Homo sapiens: one gene and its partners. The protein of the gene in region 5 purifies or fractionates together with the protein of the main gene of each other region. This does not show direct contact. Each region holds a gene or a part of one and is shown on either strand. Other genes may lie near its edges.

Region 1 (3,500 bases), on a different chromosome or scaffold from region 5:
AACCCAGGAAGCAGAGGTTGCAGTGAGCCGAGATCATGCCGCCGCACTCCAGCCTGGGCAACAGGGCGAGACTCTGTCTTAAAAAAAAAAAAAAAAAAAAATTAAAAAAGAATTAAACATTGGAAAATATGTTGTTAAATTAATTTTAATAACATATTTGTATTTAGCCCAACATAAAAGGTTATTTCAATAATCAATATACAAAAATATCAAGACATTTCACCTTTTTTTGTACTAAGTCTATGAGATCTGATAGCATTTTAATGCCTACGGGATATTTCCATTCAGACCAGCCTGTTTCAGGGGCTCAGTAGCCACATGTGGCTTTCGGCTGCCTTGTGGGACAGTGTGGGTCTGGATCCTCAGCATGATACTGTAGGCCGCCACCAGTCTCAGAGACAGAGCTCCAGTTTGTACCTGTTAACACCTCTTTCCACCCCAAGATACTGCCCTGGGTCTCCTTAACCTCTTTCCAGGCTCAGGCCCTATCTCTGAGATGAGAATGGAAAATAAATCGAGGGCCCTGGGCGGGAGAAGCATATTCTTGATGCAGAGGTGGTCCCCGGCCATGGGCATTGGGACCGCCTGGCTGAGACGGCATAAGGAAGTGATTCAGGCTTTGGAGTTGTACAGATCAGCGTTCAAGACCCAGCTCCTCTGTGTTTTAGCTCTGTCACTTTGGTGGGTTTACCTTACCTCTCTGAGCCTCAGTTTTCTTATTTATAAAATGGAGACCATATTACTGGTATCTTCTGGTCACCATGAAGATTCACAATTACTGCAAAGTGCTGGCACAGTGCCTGGCACACAGTAAATGCACAGACATGGTGTTACTAGAGATGTCGTAGGAACCTTCCCTTTATGTGCAGGGGGATTTGTGGTCTCCTTTGGAAGGGACCCAGGAGCATTTTTGGAGGGACAGAGCTGGCTGGGGCCTGCTGACCCCTGCCCCTGACTCTTGCAGAGCCACCCCTGAGTGACGACCTGCAGCCTTCCTCAGCTGTGTCCAGCCCCACCCAGCCAGGTCCTGTCCTGTACATGCCATCTGCCGCCGGAGACTCGGTGCCTGTGAGCCCCTCCAGCCCGCATGCCCCTGACCTCAGTGCCGTACGTGTCCATCCTGGGGAGTGGGTGGGCACCATGCCTGACAGAGCCAATACTTGCCTCCTAGGCCCTTTCAGCCTGGGCTTGGGAGACCATCCTGGTATTTGTCCTCAGGCCAGGGGGATCTGTCTTTTCCATCTCAGCATTCTTCGTCAAAAGTCCAGGCCCGGGGGTGGGGTAGGGCAGTCCCCAGAGCCTGTGCTGATGAGCCTGTAGGACTGGTGGCAGGGACAAAGCCTGAGGTCACTCCCCTTTCCTTCGTGAGCTTCGGGCTCCCCGAGTGGTCACTGCTGCTCGTTGGCAGATGAAAGTGGAACTGAGCCCCTTGAAGACTCCCTCTGGAGAGGGTGGAGGATGGGCCACGCACCAGCCTGCGCTGTGCCCACGGGCCCACTCCCTCCCCTCCTTCTCCGCAGCTCCTCTGTAGAAACAGCAGCCTAGGCAGCCCGTCTAACCTCTGCGGCTCCCCACCGGGCTCCATCAGGAAGCCCCCAAACCTGGAGGGCATCGTCTTCCCTGGGGAGTCTGGCCTGGCCCCTGGCAGCTATAAGAAGGCTCCCGGCTTCGAGAGGGAAGACCAGGTGGGAGCCGAGTACCTGAAAAATTTCAAATGCCAGGTAAGGGATGAGGGAGGCAGCAGTGAGGTTAGCCTTCTCCTGCGTGGGGCAAGAGAATCTTGGAGGAGTGTCTTGGTCCAGCTACGGGGAGGATGACTGGGAGCTAGGACTCCACTGTCCTCGGCCTCTTCAGGACTGAACAGAGGGAGCAGTGTCAGCCCATTTGCAGCTGAAGACAGGAAGGCTGGGGAGGCTGCATAGCCTCCCCTGGGCTGCAGAGCTGGTTAGGAGAGGAGCCAGATCCCGCCTGGGTGCGGTCCTTCGGCTGCCCTGAACTGCCTTCATGGAAAGACAGGGCCTGGGGAAGCAGGACACAGGGGTCCCTAACTGGGCCTGGAGAGATACCTTCTGGGCTTACATGAGGCCTAGTGTCACCGGGAGGAGAAGGGCAGCTCCCTGCTTAGGGTAGGGGAAGGGAGTAGGGGGTGGGGAGGAAGAAGGGGGTGTGTGCATGCATGTGAAGAGGGGTTGCATGTCTGCCACCACCTGCCCCCTGGTACCTGCAGCCTCAGGGTCAGATGGACTCAGGGACCCCCCAGCACCACATTCATCCACTCCCTGAATTTTCTCTCTCAGGCCAAATTAAAACCCCACTCATTAGAGCCCAGGAGTCAAGAGCAGCCTCTGCTTCAGCCCAAACAGGTATAGAGCTCTCAGCCCCCTTCCTCCCCTCTGCTGTGGACAGGAGTGGCCCAGAACCCCAGGAGGCTTCGGGGAGTGGGAGGCACCACTTTTCCCAAAAGCTGAGGGCAGGACTAAAGTGGGGTCCCAGCCACAAATCCAGAGAGGGTAGGGGGTCAGGCCCTGGAGCCCCTCACCTCCTAGACTCAGTGGAGAAGGTGTTCCTGGAGCCTCTGCACTCTGCCAGGCCCTGTACTCGCTTCTCTCTTCCCTGCTACAGGACTGTAGGGGCGAATGGGCCTGGCAGCCTCCGCACCTCCAACTCCATGCTCTCAACAAGGTGTCGGGTGTGCCGGGGCCCATGTGGGCATGGGGGCACCCGGACTAGAGCTAGCACGGGCCATTTCCCTTGCCCCCAGCCCCTCTCCAGCCTCTCGTCCTGGCCTCCGTATGCAGGCCTACCATTGCTTCTCCTCTTCCCTCTCTCGTTGCAGGACATGCTGGGCATCCTCCCCGCAGGCAGCCCCCTGACCTCAAGCATCTCTTCTAGTATCACCTCCAGCCTGGCAGCTACCCCCCCTAGCCCAGTGGGCACCAGCAGCGTCCCCGGCATGAATGCAAACGCTCTGCCCTTCTACCCCACCAGCGACACGGTAGAGTCAGTCATAGGTAACTAGGCCATTTCTGTTTGAAAGCCCAGGACTGGGTCTGGGGTCAGAGACCCCCCAGTCTCTGAAGCGAGTCTCAAATCAGCACACCAGACCCCTTAGACATCTGTCTTCGGAAAATCAGGGGATGGGCACTCTGAGTCCTTTGAGCTAAAGGGGAAATGACCCCAAGGTGTAGGGCCAGGACTGACCCTTAGAGCTCCTTTGTGCAAATTAGAAAGAGGTGCCTTTTCCCCTTGGTGAGTACAGTCTCACCCCAAGACGTGTTGTTCAGTCCCCACTCATCTCACTGGTGTCCTTGTGTAGTGAATGGCCAGCACGACGTTCTCAGAATCCCTGGTGCTAGAAGTTGGTGCTCCTTTCTTTCAGTACTCATTTCTAGGTGCCCGCTTTGTGCCAGGTCCTGTGGCAGGCACTGAGGAGACAGATGACAACATGCTGCTCCTGCCCTCTAGAGGGAAACTTCCCACCCAGTGGACATTTGTCAAGC
Region 2 (2,748 bases), on a different chromosome or scaffold from region 5:
TCGTGTTCTCCTCCCGCAACTCAAGTGCTGCCTCAGCCAGCAGTCTGCTCTTCTCCTCCTCCAAGGACCAGTTGGCCTGCCTCTTGGAATTAGTGCTCCCTGGGCCACCCTGGTTGAGATCATTCTGGAGAGAGGCAGCTGGAAGGGGTAATGCCATCAGCAAGGCCGAGACATCCCAGTATCTCTCCTCAGAAGCCAATGAGCCCATTTCTCAACCTTTTCTTTTCTTTTTCTTTAATAATTTTTTCTTTCTTTCTTTCTTTCTTTCTTTCTTTCTTTTTTTTTTTTTTTGAGATGGAGTCTCGCTCTGTCACCCAGGCCGGAGTGCAGTGGTGCAATCTCAGCTCACTGCAACCTCTGCCTCCTGGATTCAAGCGATTCTCCTGCCTCAGCCTCCTGAGTAACTGGGATTACAGGCACGTGACACCATGCCCGGCTAATTTTTGTATTTTTAGTAGAGACGGGGTTTCAACATGTTGGTCAGGCTGGTCTCCAACTCCTGACCTCGTGATCCACCCGCCTCAGCCTCCCAAAGTGCTGGGATTACAGGCGTGAGCCATCATGCCCAGCTTTTCTCAACCCTTTCTAATCACAGATCATCAGCTTTTTGCTCAGCACTAGCGCCTATGGTTTCTATCACAAATAAAATTAGTATTCCTCCATTTTTCCAAATGTAAAAAACTAATAATTTTACCCATGTCTTTTCCAACCACATCCATCCCCATCTACCTGATATTTTAACATTCTGCCCTAAGGGTGGGCGTCCTATGGTTTGAGAATCACTGCCCTAAAGGATCAAGACATGATAAGGCCCAGGTTCAGCCGATCTCTTTGCCTTTCAGGGCAGGAATTAGCATCTCCTGGGATTAGCACAGAGAGGGCAATGAAGGAAGCTAAGAGCTTGTATATCACTGGGCAGGAAGAATTTTACCAGATTAGGTGTGGCTCTGACACAGTCACCTTCAGTTTAGTGTTTCAGAGCAAGAGGTTTAAAATCACAGCTTTAGGTTTAAGTCTCATCTCTGCAGCTTAATAGCTGTGTGACCTTGGTCAAGTTCCTCAAGCTCACCAGGCCTGTTTCCTCATTTATAAAAAAGAATAGTATGTACCTTATAAGATTTTTTTTTTAAACAGAGTCTTGCTATGTTGCCCAGGCAGGTCTTAAATTCCCCAGCTCAAGCTATCCTCCCTCCTGCCTCTGCCTCCTTAAGTGCTTAGGATTACAGGCGTGAGCCACACCTGGCCTCATAAGATTATTGAGGATATTCAATGAGATTGTGCCTCTAAAGCAGGACTTCTCAATCTTAGTTCTCTTGACACTTTGGACCGGGTAATTCTTCATCATGATGTGCTGTCCTGTGACATAGTAGATTTAGTAGCATCCCTGGCTTCTATCCTGTAGGTGCCAGTAATATCCTCTGGGTTGTGACAACCAAAAAGTCTCTAAATGTTGCCACAAGTAGCCTGGGGGCAAAATCATCCTTTGTTGAAAACCACTGCTCTGAAGCCTTCAAACAGCACTGTCCAACAGAATGTTCTATGATGATGGAAACATTCCATATCATGTTCTATATCTGTGCTGTCCAAGATGGTAGCCATGAAGCCCATATGGCTACTGAGCATTGAGATGTGGCTGGTTTTACTAAATAGCTTCTTCCTCCTTATCAACATCATGATTGCAGAGAATATTCACTGAGTACTCACTATGAGTCAGGTATGTTCCCAAGCACTTATTGGATTATCTCGTTTACTCCTCCTGATTTCCCTGTGAGGTAGGTTTTTCCATACATACCTTCATTTTACACATGAGGAAAGTGAGACTTAGGTCAAGTAACTTGTCCAGCATCACACAGCTAATACGTGGTAGAAATGGGAATCACTGTCTGATTCTAAAGCCCGTGCACTTAAACACTAGGCTTACACTGGCTCCCTTTGGAGTAAGCACTCAATGAATGGTAACTCTTATAACGTTGATCACTCTCCGATTTATATTCATCTCCCAGAGGGTGGACAGCAGAGCCTCTCCAGTCTGGGGAAAGAGGTAGGGCAGATTCCTAGGGAGCCAAGTGGAGGGGTTACCTGGGCCTCCTCCTTTCCAGCTTTCATCGATAGCCACCTCAGCTGCCAGCTGCGTTAGCAGATCCTGTGTCTGCTGGGCTTGGGTCCTGGTGTCCGGTGTGTGATGTGCCTGCACAGACGAGGAAACCTCAGTGGAGAGCAGGGGTAGCCCAGAAGCAGTCTAGGTCAGGGATGGATGCTAAGTAGTTCTCAAAGCCCAGGGAAAGGAGAGGGATCCAGGGCCCACATAATCAAGTAGGTCTGGCCGTCCCCAACAGGACTGAGGGGCCACTTTTTCCTGCCCTACCCTATCGTGCTGTTTGTCCCTGGTCCCCGGGTCTGGTAGCAGGCCTGAGGATCAGGAGGTAGGGGTGGGAGGCTTTGCCAACTCCTGCAAAGTACATAAAGTACAAAGGTTGGTGCAAAAGTAACTGAGGTTTTTGCAATTAAAAGTAATGACAAAAACCACAATTACTTTTGTATCACCCCAATACCTGTATCTGGGCTTCTGCTGGGTCCTCCCGCTAGCACCCCCGCTTCTCTCCTAAGCCATAACACTCACCGGCTGGGGGGTTTGAGAAGGTAGAACTCTGCCCTGCAACGCTGCAAGTCGTGCCTCCATTTCCTGGGTGGAAGGGATGGAACCCTGACGTTCATCCTTTAGGGCAGCCAGCCGTGCCTCTATCTCTG
Region 3 (3,500 bases), on a different chromosome or scaffold from region 5:
TGCTTCGCTACTGCGCCACATTTTAATTTTAGTAAATCCTTCTGACTCCACATTCAAAGTATCTTCAGAATCTAACAGATTTCCCTGGCTTCCTCTGCCTCCACCCACGACTAAGCTATCTTCCCCCACCTGACTTATTGCCCCCAGACTCCCGAAAACCAAACAGGTCTCCTTGCTTTCACCCTTGTTGCCCTGGGGGTCTGTTCACAACACTCGCTGGAGTGGCTGAAACACAAGACAGGCCTCTAGTGGCTTCCCACCTCGGTGAAAGCCAGAGTCCTTACCGTGGCCTCGGCTCCAGCGTTCTTGCCTCCTTGCTGCTTCTTGAACATGCCACACATCTGTCTTGGTACCTGCTAGTTATTGCCTTTGCCTGGACATTTTCTCAGATAGCTGCAAGTCTTGCTCCCTGTCTTCTCTTTGGTTTTTCTTTTTTAATTTGAGGTGGAGGCTTACTGTCGCCCAAGCTGGAGTGCGGTGGCGTGATCTTGGGTCACTGCAACCTCCACCTGCCGGGTTCAGGCAAATCTCCTGCCTCAGCCTCCCGAGTAGTGGGGACTACAGGTACGTGCCAATTCACCTGGCTAATTTTTGTATTTTTTAGTAGGTAACGGGGTTTCGCCGTGTTGGCCAGGCTGATCTTGAACTCCCAACCTCAAGTGATCTGCTCGCTCGCCTTGGCCTCCCAAAGTCCTGGGATACAGGCGTGAGCCACCACACTAGGCCTTTCCCTTTGGTTTATACTTAGATGTAGTCACCTTAGTAGAGGGGTGTCCCCGGAATAGAATTTTCCATCCCCGGCCTTCTGTCTTTCTCATTGCTGACAATAAGTAGGAAGCAAGCTAACAAGCAGCAGGCTACGGCTGCCTACAAGTGTACATAGGTATCTGCCTGTCCCCCTAACTGGGCATCAGCTCCAGGCCAGCAGGGCTTTCCCCTCTCTTTCAGTCACTGCCGTGTCCTCGCCTAAGAGAGTGTCTGGCACACAGTAGGTGCTCAGTGAGTTACTCATTGATTAAAAAGCCTGGAAAACCAGGCTGTGTCGTGAAGATAATAGGCAGCCACTGAGGTCTTACTGCATGAGAACAAGGAAAGCTCAGCTCAGTGTAGATTGCCGGACCTAAATTTTGTGGAATCGCCTTTCATACCTAAGAGGCGAGCACCGTTGCCAGCTTTGCACTTGGAGCCCCCTCTGTCATTTATTTTGTTGACTTAAAAGCTGTTTTGTGAACCCAGCATAATGGCACTTCTTAAACTTGTAGAAAAAGGGTGTTTCTTACCTGTTTATTTCAACACATCTCGTTGCCTCACCTGGAGAGGCAACTCTCCTCTGTAGAGTGAAAGACTATAATGGTGGCCATGTAGAAACTAATATTCCAGAAGGAGAGAGCTCCAAGAAGGGGATTCCAGTGAACCATATGTACACTGTGTTTGAGAGACATTAGTTCCCCACGGAGAAGGGATGGATAGTCTGTGCTTCGGGGGTCTAAGGAAGGCTTCCTGCAGGTGCTGGTACCTCCTTAGGTCTGGGGTGGTTCCTTCTAAGTTTCCTTACCCTGCCTGCATCACCTCTGCCTCTTATGACCTCTGTGCAAAGACTGGGAAGGGTCACCCCCAATGGCTGTGAACGAACCTGTTTGTGATTCTAAACAGGGCACGGGACCATCCTACAATAAAAATTACCCAGCCTAAAATGCCAGTAGTGCCAGTAGTCCCTGTTTAGAAAAAGAAAAAAAAAAAGCAACTTTTGCCTCACAACAGAGGCCCTCTTGTGTGCTGCCAGGCAGCCAGCAGATTTGCTATGCAGGCAAGTTTGGGGCCTGGTTTTTAAAGTATCCAGTTCCTAGATTCCAGAACTAAAATACACATTTGGAAAAATGATGTCTATAAAATTGAGTTTCCGGGAGTGCAAGGTTTATAGCAATTTGACACTGCTGGGAACCCAGGCGCAGTATCAGTGGACTTTTCTCCTTGAACAGGGGGCAGACCAAGTGGGGGGTTGGGGAGGGTATTGGGCTCACTCTTGGTTTCCCTTGGTGTGAGCTGCCACCATTCACATGCAGAGGACTCACCTGTGTTTCCTGCGGGTTGGGGGTAATGGTGGCATGACAGAGGGCTTGAGGACTGACCTAGCTGCTTCTCCGGAATTGGACGCCTGCTGACTACCTGCGTGTATCCAGATGGCCATTGGCCTGTGGGGGTGCAGGATGGAGGCCCTGCCCACATGGAGCTCACTGTCCTGGGTGGGAGTGAAATAAACTCTAGGTGGCAGAAGGAAGTGGTGCGTTGGATTATCACCTGGGTGCAAACGAGCTGGCAGCAGCGCCTGCCAGGTGCAGAGCCAGGAACCTCTAGGCCTTCAGTCTGACCACCTGATGGCAGGGGAAGCAGAGGGTGGTGGGGGGCCTTCATCTCAGGAGAATCTGAGTGGCTGCAGGTGCCAGTCAGGACGCTGGGCTTCTGCAGATGGGACCACATCTGGGAGGACCGAAGGGCCGGGTGCTTATGGGCTGTTACTGTGGCACTGAGCGTGAGGGGAGTGGACAGGACCCAGGCTGAGAAGTGCTGGTGTGCAGTGGTGGCAGGTGGCTCACACAGCCCTACCATAGCGCAGCCCTGCTCTGAAGGCCACTGGAGCCATTCAGAGGTCTCACAGACAAGTAATCAGATCCAGCCTACGGTAAGGAGAAGTTCTGTATCTGAGATCTGAGGCAGGGAAGCCAATTAGGAAGCTGCTCAAAGATGAAGGCGGCGTCAGCGCAGGTTCCGTTGCGTGGTGCAGCCATCTCTGGCTCTCACGTTTCCCACACATGTTCACTAAGCCCCTGTCTTGGCAAGCCATACCCTAAGCCACAGAGGACCAGGATTAAAATCAGTGATTTTCAGGGAGGGGTAATTTCCCCCACCTCATTCCCCTGAGGGATATCTGGCAACGTTTGCAGACATTTTTGTGCCACTGGTATCTGAAGTCAGGGTTGTGGCCAAACATCCGACAAGGTACATGGCCGTCCTTCCACAAAGAACTGTCCAGCCCCAAATGCCAGGGGTACCAAGGTTGAAAACTCTGGTAAAGAACCTTCGAAGGCACCAGGTTAAGTGCTTCAAAAGAACAATGCCCTGGGTGCTCTGGGAATGTGAGGGAGGAGCCAGCTGTGCCACAGAGCGGGGACAGCTGCTGGAGAAGTGCCACATTTGAGTTGGGTCTTGAAGGATGAATAAGAGTTCTCCAGGAGGAGCGTTGAGACACACGGCAGAGGTGGGGAGAAACCAGGCAGGAAACAGCATGTGTACCTGGGTCCTCTCAGCCCCACTGTGGCCTCCTGTGTGTTGCTTTTGGTACATTTCTTGCCCTGTTGGAGGTAACGGGAGGGATACTGAAGCCATCTTTGAGGTAAGAGAAGAGGTTTAGCCTCATGCGTAAGACTACTGGAGAGATGGCCTTGCCCAAGAGTAGTTGGAGATGCTTCTTTGGAGAGTGACCTCCACCTTCTGCAAGGCCC
Region 4 (3,992 bases), about 63 Mb from region 5:
AAATGCCTACGTCATGATATGAACTGAAGTGAATGACACAGGCATTGTGACATAGTGTTTCAAAATTATGAACTATTTATTCTAGAATATTTCATTTAAAATTTTTGGACCCAGGTTAACTTCGGGTTATTGAAACTGTGGAAAGTAAAACCACAGGGAAGTGGAGAATACTGTGCAGCTTTATTACATTATATAATTTTGATTTTTAGTTATCTGCATTCCCTCATTAGATTATAAGCATCTGGCCACAGAGATTTTTGCCTTGTTCAGCAGGAAGTTAATCACTACATGAATATTAATCCAAATTTCCTAGGTTAGAAGGTTGAAAAGGTTGAATGAGAAAGCACACATGTGAACCTACCACTAACAAAATTACAATTCAAGATCCTTCCTGCTTAAGAGTAACAATTATGCCTTTCATGTTGGTCAGTCTCTGGCTGATTCACTGAAGAACAGCCAACAGTCCAATTCAAGTATGATGCATTCTGGGGCCGGGCACGGTGGCTCACACCTGTAACCCAGCACTTTGGGAGGCTAAGGCGGGCGGATCACTTGAGGTCAGGAGTTCAAGACCAGCGTGGCCAACATGGTGAAACCCTGTCTCTACTAAAAATAGAAAAAATTAGCCAGGCGTGGTGGCAGGCACCTGTAATCCCAGCTACTCGGGAGGCTGAGGCACAAGAATCACTTGAACCTGGGAGGTGGAGGTTGCAGTGCGCCAAGATCACGCCACTGCACTCCAGTCTGGGCAACAGAGCAAGACTGTCTCAAAACAACAACAACAAAAACCTGCAAATGATGAAGATTATGTTGTAGAGTATCGAAATCACATGCAAAGTCTCTGACAAATGAAAAGCTGGTGGAATAAAAATTGTTAAAAAGCCAACGATGACAAGATGGGCACTTCAGAAGAGTCACCTTTAATACTCAAGGGAAAAATACTTTTACCAAATGACCAACGCTTTTTCCAAATACGTTTACCAAAAAGAACCTTTCCAAATAGGACTACAAAAAGCTACAAAAAACTCAAGTGAAGATTGCTGAATCTTAGTTTAATACAACCTTGGTGAAAAAGATAGTCATCCGGGCACGGTGACTCACGCCTGTAATCCCAGCACTTTGGGAGGCTGAGGTAGGCGGATCACCTGAGGTCAAGAGGCCAGCCTGGGCCAACATGGTGAAACCTCATCTCTACTACTAAAAATACAAAAATTAGCTGGGCGTGGTGGTGGGTGCCTGTAGTCCCAGGTACTCAGGAGGCTGAGGCAAGAGAATCGCTTGAACCTGGGAGGTGGAGGTTGTAGTGAGCTGAAATCACGCCACTGCACTCAAGCCTGGGCGACCGTGCAAGACTCCGTCTCAAAAAAAAAAAAAAAAAGAAAGAAAAGAAAAGGAAAAAAACACAGACAAATCAACACTTGACTTATTCCACAAAATGAGTCATTGTTGCAATTATACAATTATAATATTTTGTGAAAGATAACAATTATTTTAATAATCTTCTAGGTCGATTTTCAAGATGAAAGTCCCAAGCAAGCCTCCTTTCCCACTCTTTTTGTGTATGTGTGTGTGAAATTTTAATCTCTGTTTAAGTGGGTCTACTTTGAGTGGTCTTTCTTCAGAATCAATTATCATGGGTTAAGGAGTTCTTCCATTACCTTTGATGCCTCTGTCAGGCACTCCAATAACTGCTTGTTCAACAAACTACCGGAAGTCCACGACGGGGACTCAATACAAGTATTTTAGGCTACTCTTTTGTGCCTTATTGACTTACTGGACTGGGAGTCCTCTACATTAAGCCACATTACATTCTAAACGCCACTGAAGCCCTAGATCCATTCTGGGGATGGGAGACACCATTACATTAAGAAATTTCTTTTCTGAACGAATTCCATTCCACAGAGGACTAACGATTAAGCCTAAAATCTTAAGATTCCATGATTTGTGTACAAAACACTGTGCTCATTGCGGTAGAGGAGGGGAAGTGGAGCCACACAGAGGTTTAAGAATACTCCTCGATCTTACACACTACCATCTGGGAGCCACAGGAGTGTGCACATAAATTCAATGACTTCACGGAGATTGCATGCAGGCTGGCTGTAATCTCAGATTCTTGGTCTGTTCCCATATCTCTACTCACCTGACAGCTCAGAATGAAGGGGTCTGCTGTCAGCTTGAGAAACTAAGACCGAACTATGACCACCCTATCTTCAACTGGTCCAGAATAGGGCTTTGCAAAAATTACGTTCTTTCTTTCTCCGTTAACCCTGATTGGAGAAACCTGCCCAGATCTTGGCTGGTTTGGAAGCGGGAAGTGTCAACAAAAGTGAAGAGTCTCACAAAGCCAGTAGCTCGGGAGACCCCAAGAGCGGGCCAGAAACGACCTTTCCGTTGGAAAACGGGCCCCTCTCCCACCTGCTGCAGGTCCCCGGACCCGCCCTCCTGCGCCTCGACCACAGGCGCGGCCGCTTCCTCCCTTCTCCCCGCCCCCCACCCGCTTCTCGCGCCTCCCCTCGATCCCAGCTCCCTAGGGGGACGGGAGATGAGCAATGATACCTGGAGGTTGGGCGAAGTGGATGACATGGCGGAGTTCCCAGGCGGTTCCCAAGGGAACGAGGGGCGAGGAGAGCCAACAGCAGCAACGTCGAAGCGCGCACGGGGTAACAGCCCTCAAACTGGGGAGGCCGGTGGTTCTCGGACCGCGAAGGGCAGCCTCCCTTCCGGAACTTGTTTTAGACAACACTCTCTCCACCAGAGCTCCGACCCTCCCCACCAAACTTCCGCAATCCCGAGGCCCTCTAGGTTCTGGTCCCGCCTCTGCTCCGGGCACTTCCGATTTCGTCATCAGCACGCGCACCCAGTCACCAGACTCCCTTCTCTAGCCACAGCGCAGGCCCTCCCTGGGCCGGGAGAAGTAGCCTGGAAGCCAATCGAGCCCTGGCGGAAGTCGGGCTCGGCGCAGGCGCACTGAGACTCTGGCCTAGGCGCGGGCGGCAGCCTGGCAGACCTAGGAGAGCGCAAGCGCGGAAGCACAGAGCCGGGTTTTGTTGTTTGTTTGTTCCCCACCCCCGGGGACGTCTTTTACTTTGAGATGAATTATTGGCCCCGGCTCCCTTCCCTCCTCATCCACATGCTTTGTTGCCTCGTAGCTTTTGAGTGAAAAAGTCGTCCATTTCCAAGACCCGCCGACTGGGGGCTTTGGGCCTGTGACTGCGCCTTCACTCCGTGTCCTCTGTGGAATGGGGGCGATCACCGTCCTCGTCTCGGTGGTGAATAATTCAGGAGGGAGTGCGCGGTGAGGCGGCCGCACAGCGGTGCGCTAGCAGTCAGGCCGCGGGCGGGTCGGCGCTCGTTCCCGCTTGTTCTTCCCACGCCACTCGGCATCTTCCAAATGACTGTTGTGTTGGGAAGATGAATGTAAATAAGGCGTGGACGGCCGCTGTCCTCGAGTATGTGGTCTGAGAGGGAAGCACTTGTCCTGTAAAATGGGCATATCAGATATTATTTATGCCAGTTATGTTTACAAGCAAATGGCTTGAGGAGGTTGAATGCGTCAGGGATTAGAGGCAGAACCAAAGTAAAACCCTTTCTCAGCCTTCCTATGGTTTGCAGCCACCACCACCCTTTTCTTCTTTTCATAGTTAACATTCTCAAAGGAAAGCAACATAGATGTTTAATCACTCCATCATTTTTTTCTCACTCATTTCTTAATTTTTTCTCATCTGGCATCTCCGAAAGAATTAAAGTCCTCTCCTCTTCCCTCTTCATTGGTATTGTCAACTACCCAGTTCTTGTTTGTCCAGCTTCCCAATATTCCTTATCTGCTTCCTTCACTGTCTCCCTTTCTTACTCCTCCCTGAGCTTAAGCTGAATTTACTCAAGAGTCTGATGTCCTCTTCTCTCTTCACCTCTGCTCATCTAACTCTCTTCTTGAGCTTCAGCTATCAATAGACTAGAAATTGCTTCAAATCTGGATCTCTAGACCCACCCCA
Region 5 (3,213 bases):
TCAGGCCCGTGATGTGCGCAATCATGTACGTGAGCAGGGCGTAGCTGGCGATGTTGAAAGGCACACCGAGGCCCATGTCTCCCGATCTCTGGTACAGCTGGCAGGACAGCTCACTGTTCACCACATAGAACTGGCAGAGGGCATGGCATGGAGGCAGCGCCATCAGAGGAAGATCTGAGGAACCAGCAGAGGAAGATAAGGAGGGATGGTGGTTTGAAAGACCACAGCTAAAGGCAAAGTAAAACAGGAGAGAAACAGAAGCCAACTCATATGGTGGAGACCAGGAGAGAGAGCCACTGGGCTGCAGTGATGTCCATAACAGCCTCTGCAGCGATGGCACGGAGCTGAGGGAGACTATCCATCGGTGCAAGGTTTCTGCAGGTGTCCATTTACGGCTGAAGCAATGCTCTTCCATCAGAGCTGAAGGGATCTGGGCTACCTCGTGGCACCAGATTACAAATACAGCAGGAATAATTCTGTTTGCCACAGGAAACTGGTGCTTCTGGTACACCCTCCTATATTAAAAGTCTCTATTACATGGCCAGGCACAGTGGCTCATGCCTGAAATCCCAACACTGGGACGCCAGGGTGGGCAGATCACTTGAGGCCAACTTGAGTTCGAGACTAGCCTGGCCAACATAGTGAAACCCCGTCTCTGCTAAAAATACAAAAATTCGCGCGCCTGTGGTCCCAGCTCTGGGGCTGAGGAATGGGAACTCACTTGAACCTGGGAGATGGAGGTTGCCGTGAGCGGAGATCACACCACTGCACTCCAGCCTGGGCAACAGGGTGAGACTGTGTCTCAAAAAAAAAAAAAAAATAAGTCTCTATTACAGATGCAAGTATTTCACTCTAAGTACTTATGATATCCTGATAGAGTTTTGTTGTTGTTGTTGTTTTTAAATATTCAGGGTCTCACTCTGTTGCCCAGGCTGGAGTGCAATGGCGTGATCATGACTCACTACAGCCTCAAATTCCTGGGTTCAAATGATCCTCTCGCCTTGGCCTCTGGAGTTGTTGGAATTACAGGTGTGAGCCACCACACCTGGCTCTACACCCTGGTAGAGTTGAATTTTACAATATAATTGTTAAAAATGTTAGTGAGGTGGCAGCGAGCTGGAACTTCATCTGCTTCCATTTAAAATGTTAACATCTTACATGTAGTTTCTAGGCAATTTAAAACCCTTTTTGGTGTAAGAATGAGTATAAATACACAAATTAAGATCATCTGGTTGGGAGGCTGAGGCAGGCAGATCATCTGAGGTCAGGAGTTCAAGACCAGCCTGACCAACATGGTGAAACCCCGTCTCTACTAAAAATACAAAATTAGCCGGGCATGGTGGCACATGCCTGTAATCCCAGCTACTTGGGAGGCTGAGGCAGGAGAATCACTCGAACCCAGGAGGCAGAGGTTACAGTGAGCCAAGATCACGCCGTTGCATTCCAGCCTGGGCAACAGAGCAAAACTCTGTCTCAAAAAAAAAAAAAAAAAAAAAAAATCCTCTGGGCCCAACCTCATGATCTGAAGGTGAAAGTGCAGCAAAATGTGACTTGCCCAACGTCACACAATCAACCATGTGGCTGGGGGAAGTTCCCAGGGTCCTGCCTCCCTCAGGTGCCTCTGCACAAAACCAGATTGCTTCCCTCTAAGAGTATGGTTAGTATAAATGAAGACGACGGGGTTCTTTCAACCTCTTGGATTCCAAGCGCACATGATGATTCTTCTGTCGTCAGGGTTGGTTTTGATGGTGTCAATCACTCTTTGCAGTTGGTCAACTCCCTGTCCTGAATAATCTGTAGAATTGTCAAAAAGAGAGGACAGGTACATACATTAATCACACATGTCATGAGATGGCCTTAGAGGTCATCTATTACAGTCTCTTACCCAGGGTCCCCCCTTGACCCATGGCTACAAGACATCTGGTGCATCCTGCAAAGTTTGCAGATCTCGGTGGGTTGAGTTCAAGGCCCTGTCTGACTCCTGGCTCTGTCCTCTGGAGCCCTAACAAAGTCTTTTTCCTCTTCTACACAGTCCTTTGAATATTTGGTCTGTCATGGAGTCACCTCCTCCTGTTCCCCCCATAGCTAACCCTTTCCAATCTCAACAATCTTAATTTCTTCCAGTGCTCCTCGCAAACTTAGGCTCTAAACCCATCAGCGATTCTTGTCACAATTTCACTGACAAAATCTACTTTATCCTTGTCTCACAGAGAGTGTTGTATCTTATGTAGAATATAGTATTCCATATACTTTCCAACTAACAGAGGACCATGGATTCCTTTCTATCACCTCAGCAGCATGTTTCCAACACTTCCACCTAAAATTACTTTAGAGTTTAGCAGCTCAACACACGACTGACTTGGAAACATCAGGAAACCTCTGTAATGATTACACCACCTTGTACTTTGCTCCCATTTCTGGTCTCTGGATTTTAATCCCTTTCCTTCCTTCTGAGATGGAACTGGAAGCTGAGAAGTGATTTGTTAACTGAAGTGCAGAGCTTCATAATCTCCTTTGGTTAAATTTCTACCTATTAGTGTCAGACTATATTCTGGTTCAGTAGTTCTCAAAATTTTGGGAGGAAAGTCCTCTCATGGTCACTGTTCCGAAAAAGGTAACATCAAAGATTTTAAAAAGATGAACCTTGGTAGTGTAGTTCTGTAACTTGATTGTAGTGGTTACAAGAGTCTACACGTGCTAAAATTGCAAATACACACATACACAAGTGCACGTAAAACTAGCAAAATCTGACAACTCTGAGGAATGCACCAATGTGAATGTATACAGGATGTTACCCAAGATATTATCACTGGGGGAAACTGGGTAGTGTGTCCAGGGAAACTTTCTGTGCATTAAAAAAAAAAAAAAAAAAATTCCTGTGAATCTGTAAAACAAAATTAAAAACAAAAAGGGACAAACTTTCCTACTAAAATCCAACAGCTAAGCATTCATACCACTGTAAACTAAAACCATAATTTTATTAGGCCTTTTAAGCGACAAGAAATAATTGAATACTAGGCAGGATTTAAAGCATCATTAAGCCCGGGGACTGGCCTCACATCCTACGGACACCCTACAACTGAGGTGCAGGCAACGACCTGCAGAACACTTACCTGCACAAGTAACTTGGCCCACGCAGCAGCTTTTTTCATTGTGATAAAGTACACATAATATTAAACTTGCCATTTTTGTGTGCAATTCAGAAGCATTAAG
Region 6 (3,500 bases), on a different chromosome or scaffold from region 5:
TCTAGGCACAGTTATGATTTTATGTCAAGTGAAATAAAAACATAGTTCTGCTATAATGTAACAAGTGCCTTCCTAAAATCACTGCACTATGCTAAATCACGCACTAAAAATCCCCAGGCTGGTGGGGAAAGTGAGGGCACAGCATTTAAAAACTTGGTCAGTGCCACATTAAAAAACAAAAACAGGAACCTAATAATAACAGTTTTATACATGTTAAATGGTTGAGAAATAGATAAATACTACAATATGGCACTTTACGGTGAAAAAGACCTAATGCTCACTAAGGTAGCTGGGGGATGTTGGTGCATTCCATCTATTCATACCTGGTTTAGTTCAACTGGGTGCAGTTTTCTGCTTTTACCTAAGGCTTCTTATAGATGAAATCACACACAAGCAAATGTGAAATTTATTTCATGCTCAAATTTTTCCCTAATATATCAATTGAGTTAGAATTCAGTTTTGAAACAAGTATAGCAGGACTGACTGTACCTTTTATCTACAAAAGAGTACGTACTTTCAATGTGGGCAGAGCATGAACTGTTTAGTTGTAAAATGAAACATATAACTTGTCTTTCATCTTTCGTATTTCTTAGGATATCTGTAAACATACAGGGAGTTTAAAAATTCTCCCTACATTTTTTAAGTTATAAAATGTAAACAAAAACATTATTCAAATTGGCTGTATGTGTTTTTATTTCCCATTCAACAGATGGAAAAATGAAGCATAGCCTACTACAACCTGTAATAAAAACAAAATAAGACCAAGTGTGGTGGCTTATGCCTGTTATCCCAGCATGTTGGGAGGGAGGATCTCTTGAGCCCAGGAGTTCAAGGTTGCAGTGAGCTATGATCATGCCACTGCACTCCACCCTGGGTGACAGAGTGGGACTGTCTCAAAAAACCAAAAACCTAAACCTAAATATCTTAAACATTTTGTTTTAATGCTTTTTGGCCTTAGCTCATGGTCAGTTTTTCTATTCACATCTCATGTCTGTATAGACCTCAATACATAGATCAGTTACATAAATGAAAAATCATCTACTATCATAACTTCTTAACTTCTTACATGTAATTACAGTAGCTCAGTTCATATATATATATACATAAAAATAACTGTATTTACGTATATATACATATATATATATTTTTTGGAGACAGAGTCTCACTCTGTCACCTAGGCTGGAGTGCATGGGCTCATTGCAACCTCCGCCTCCTGGATTCAAGCAATTCTCCTGCTTCAGCTTCTCAGGTAGTTGGGATTACAAGCGTACGCTGCCATGCCTGGCTAATTTTTGTATTTTTAGTAGAGATGGGTTTTCACCATGTTGGCCAGGCTGGTCTCGAACTCCTGACCTCAAGTGATCCGCTCACCTAATTAAAGGTGTGAGCCACCGCACCTGGCCAGTTCTGATATTTTTTGTAATGTCTTTATTACAAATGGCTTTAGACCCCAAATATTCAACAATCACATTTAATTGGCTATTTCATACCATTTTCCTAATGTTGCCTCAGAACCTGTTTGTACTACATTGTTACCATTTATGGTGACATCACATGACAATCTGTTTATAGAGTTAATTTTTTTTGAGGGTAATTTTGAAAGTAACTATCTCTTCTGGCTCAATGAATTGGTTAAAATATATGTCATAATATAGTTTAAATATTCTCAATTTCATGACCACACTTGAATCTTAAAGTCATAGCAGCCCTCTAACAAAGGCTCTCAGCTACAGTTGATTGGTTGCTGGCTGCAAAAATTCTATCATCTCTACTTGAAAATCAACTCCCAAAAAATGCATGCATACTCTGCGTTAGTCACCGATATTTATATTCAGAATAGACCATTTTTTAGGTTATTATATTTTACATTTATTAATATTTTATTTTAAATTTATTTTTTGAGGCAGGGTCTATGTTGTCCAGACTGGTCTCAAATTCCTGGGCTCAAGAGATCCTTCTGTCTTGGCCTCCCAAAGTGCTGGGATTACAGGCGGAGGCCACCACACCTGGCGCATTTACTAACCTTTTCATACATTCTTTTTTCTTTCCTGCTCAGTGGTCAAAGTTCTCAACATTCAAGCTTATAAATAAATGCATATCTTGGCAGGTATGATTGTATCTGTATATTATCATTACAAGAGAGTTCAGTATAGAGAATGATGTCGAGGTGACTTTAGGGTAACTCATAGTAAAAGTGGCTTGTTAAAGTGAATTCTCTTTGTAGAGAATTACTCACAAGAAATACTTTCTTAATCACTGGTTTTATAACAATGATTCACGATAACAGAAACTCCTGTGTTCCCTGGTGGGAGGGGAAGGTTGAGCTGAACTGTGGACTATGAACATTGTCCTGCCAAAAAGCTGTAATTCATTTTGAATTTCTCTGTCCACCACCATTTCAAATATCTAAAAATTAACTTAGCTAAATTCCTAAACCACCTACAAAAACTGAACCACATACAAGGATCCAGGAAATGTAAAAGGGAAGGCTGTTTTTTCTCCCCCCATTGGCTCCAAACTGATTTTTTAATTTCAAAACTCAATCCAGAAAGACTTCATACCTGTTTCTGTTGTTTCTTACTGTTTGAGAATATTATTTCCAATTATATACCCATCACTAATAGAAAAATAAGGAATTTCTGTGTATTTCCTGAAAATGGAGTTTTAAAACTCACATCCTGTTAAATCACCCAAAGAATTCATCATTAAGGCAAGATAATTCTGTTAATGTTTATCTGCTCATACCATTTCATCTCAACCGCTTTTCCGCAAAGAGGAAAAAATACCCTCAGTCCACTCTTGCCTTTAAGGAAAGTATCTAAATGCTTCTTTAATAGCCTGAAGAGGAAAAAAAAAAAGGTTTTAGGACAATTGTATGGTAGGTGAACACTTTTCATTCATTATCTCACTTAATATTCCCAACAACCTTAATAAGCAGTTACTATTAATTATTATAATCTCCAGCTTACATATGAAGAAACAGGTAACTTGCTCAGACACACACCCAGTCAGTGGTAAATCTGACTTACACCCAGGGCTTTCCTGATTAGTAATTAAAAATAATTTTTTTTTCTTGGGGATGTTTTGAAAATTCTTTATTAATTCTCTAAATATGTACTATTTTGGGGGTGATGGAGCCTCTGGAGCCATGGATTTTTCAACATTAATTTCATGGTACGTTCTCTAAACGTGTACTCAAGCCTCGGAAGTAAACCTGAGAAGTGTAACTCCTGTAGTTTCTTGTAATTCCCTCTGTGGAGATGTGGCTCTTCTAAGGCCATCCACATGACAGAAATAACCCAGTGTTTCTGGTATGATGATGATGATGATGATGATGTCATCTCCTGGGGAGATGGGCGTGGCTGCCCAGAACAAGGAATGTCTCTAACAACCACTTTACTCAGCACTGGTCCCATGATTTATTGCTGCTATGAAGACTACTACTACATTGCACAACATCCTAACTCACTTTATAATTTCTCGCAACTTCTTTTCTCCCA

Evidence for each region.
Region 1: the proteins of TYMS (region 5) and UNK fractionate together in Homo sapiens (co-fractionation; one large-scale study listed by BioGRID). This does not show direct contact.
Region 2: the proteins of TYMS (region 5) and ZFYVE19 fractionate together in Homo sapiens (co-fractionation; one large-scale study listed by BioGRID). This does not show direct contact.
Region 3: the proteins of TYMS (region 5) and WDR1 fractionate together in Homo sapiens (co-fractionation; one large-scale study listed by BioGRID). This does not show direct contact.
Region 4: the proteins of TYMS (region 5) and VPS4B fractionate together in Homo sapiens (co-fractionation; one large-scale study listed by BioGRID). This does not show direct contact.
Region 6: the proteins of TYMS (region 5) and TPMT fractionate together in Homo sapiens (co-fractionation; one large-scale study listed by BioGRID). This does not show direct contact.

Annotation. Positions count from the first base shown.
Region 1 is NC_000017.11:75,815,806-75,819,305, forward strand, and holds part of UNK (RING finger protein unkempt homolog), read left to right. Parts: intron 1-964; coding exon 965-1,107; intron 1,108-1,520; coding exon 1,521-1,721; intron 1,722-2,297; coding exon 2,298-2,363; intron 2,364-2,836; coding exon 2,837-3,011; intron 3,012-3,500. UniProt on the Homo sapiens protein: Sequence-specific RNA-binding protein which plays an important role in the establishment and maintenance of the early morphology of cortical neurons during embryonic development.
Region 2 is NC_000015.10:40,810,089-40,812,836, reverse strand, and holds part of ZFYVE19 (abscission/NoCut checkpoint regulator), read right to left. Parts: coding exon 2,621-2,748; intron 2,450-2,620; coding exon of another isoform or gene 2,367-2,449; exon of another isoform or gene 2,366-2,366; intron 2,189-2,365; coding exon 2,080-2,188; intron 139-2,079; coding exon 1-138. UniProt on the Homo sapiens protein: Key regulator of abscission step in cytokinesis: part of the cytokinesis checkpoint, a process required to delay abscission to prevent both premature resolution of intercellular chromosome bridges and accumulation of DNA damage.
Region 3 is NC_000004.12:10,110,300-10,113,799, reverse strand, and holds part of WDR1 (WD repeat-containing protein 1), read left to right. Parts: intron 1-3,500.
Region 4 is NC_000018.10:63,419,677-63,423,668, forward strand, and holds the start of VPS4B (vacuolar protein sorting-associated protein 4B), read right to left. Parts: upstream 2,801-3,992; 5' UTR 2,584-2,800; coding exon 2,557-2,583; intron 1-2,556.
Region 5 is NC_000018.10:667,653-670,865, reverse strand, and holds part of TYMS (thymidylate synthase), read right to left. Parts: exon of another isoform or gene 3,187-3,213; coding exon of another isoform or gene 3,114-3,186; intron 1,795-3,113; coding exon 1,693-1,794; intron 549-1,692; exon of another isoform or gene 175-548; coding exon 1-174. UniProt on the Homo sapiens protein: Catalyzes the reductive methylation of 2'-deoxyuridine 5'-monophosphate (dUMP) to thymidine 5'-monophosphate (dTMP), using the cosubstrate, 5,10- methylenetetrahydrofolate (CH2H4folate) as a 1-carbon donor and reductant and contributes to the de novo mitochondrial thymidylate biosynthesis pathway.
Region 6 is NC_000006.12:18,145,078-18,148,577, forward strand, and holds part of TPMT (thiopurine S-methyltransferase), read right to left. Parts: intron 2,839-3,500; coding exon 2,746-2,838; intron 1-2,745. UniProt on the Homo sapiens protein: Catalyzes the S-methylation of thiopurine drugs such as 6-mercaptopurine (also called mercaptopurine, 6-MP or its brand name Purinethol) and 6-thioguanine (also called tioguanine or 6-TG) using S-adenosyl-L-methionine as the methyl donor.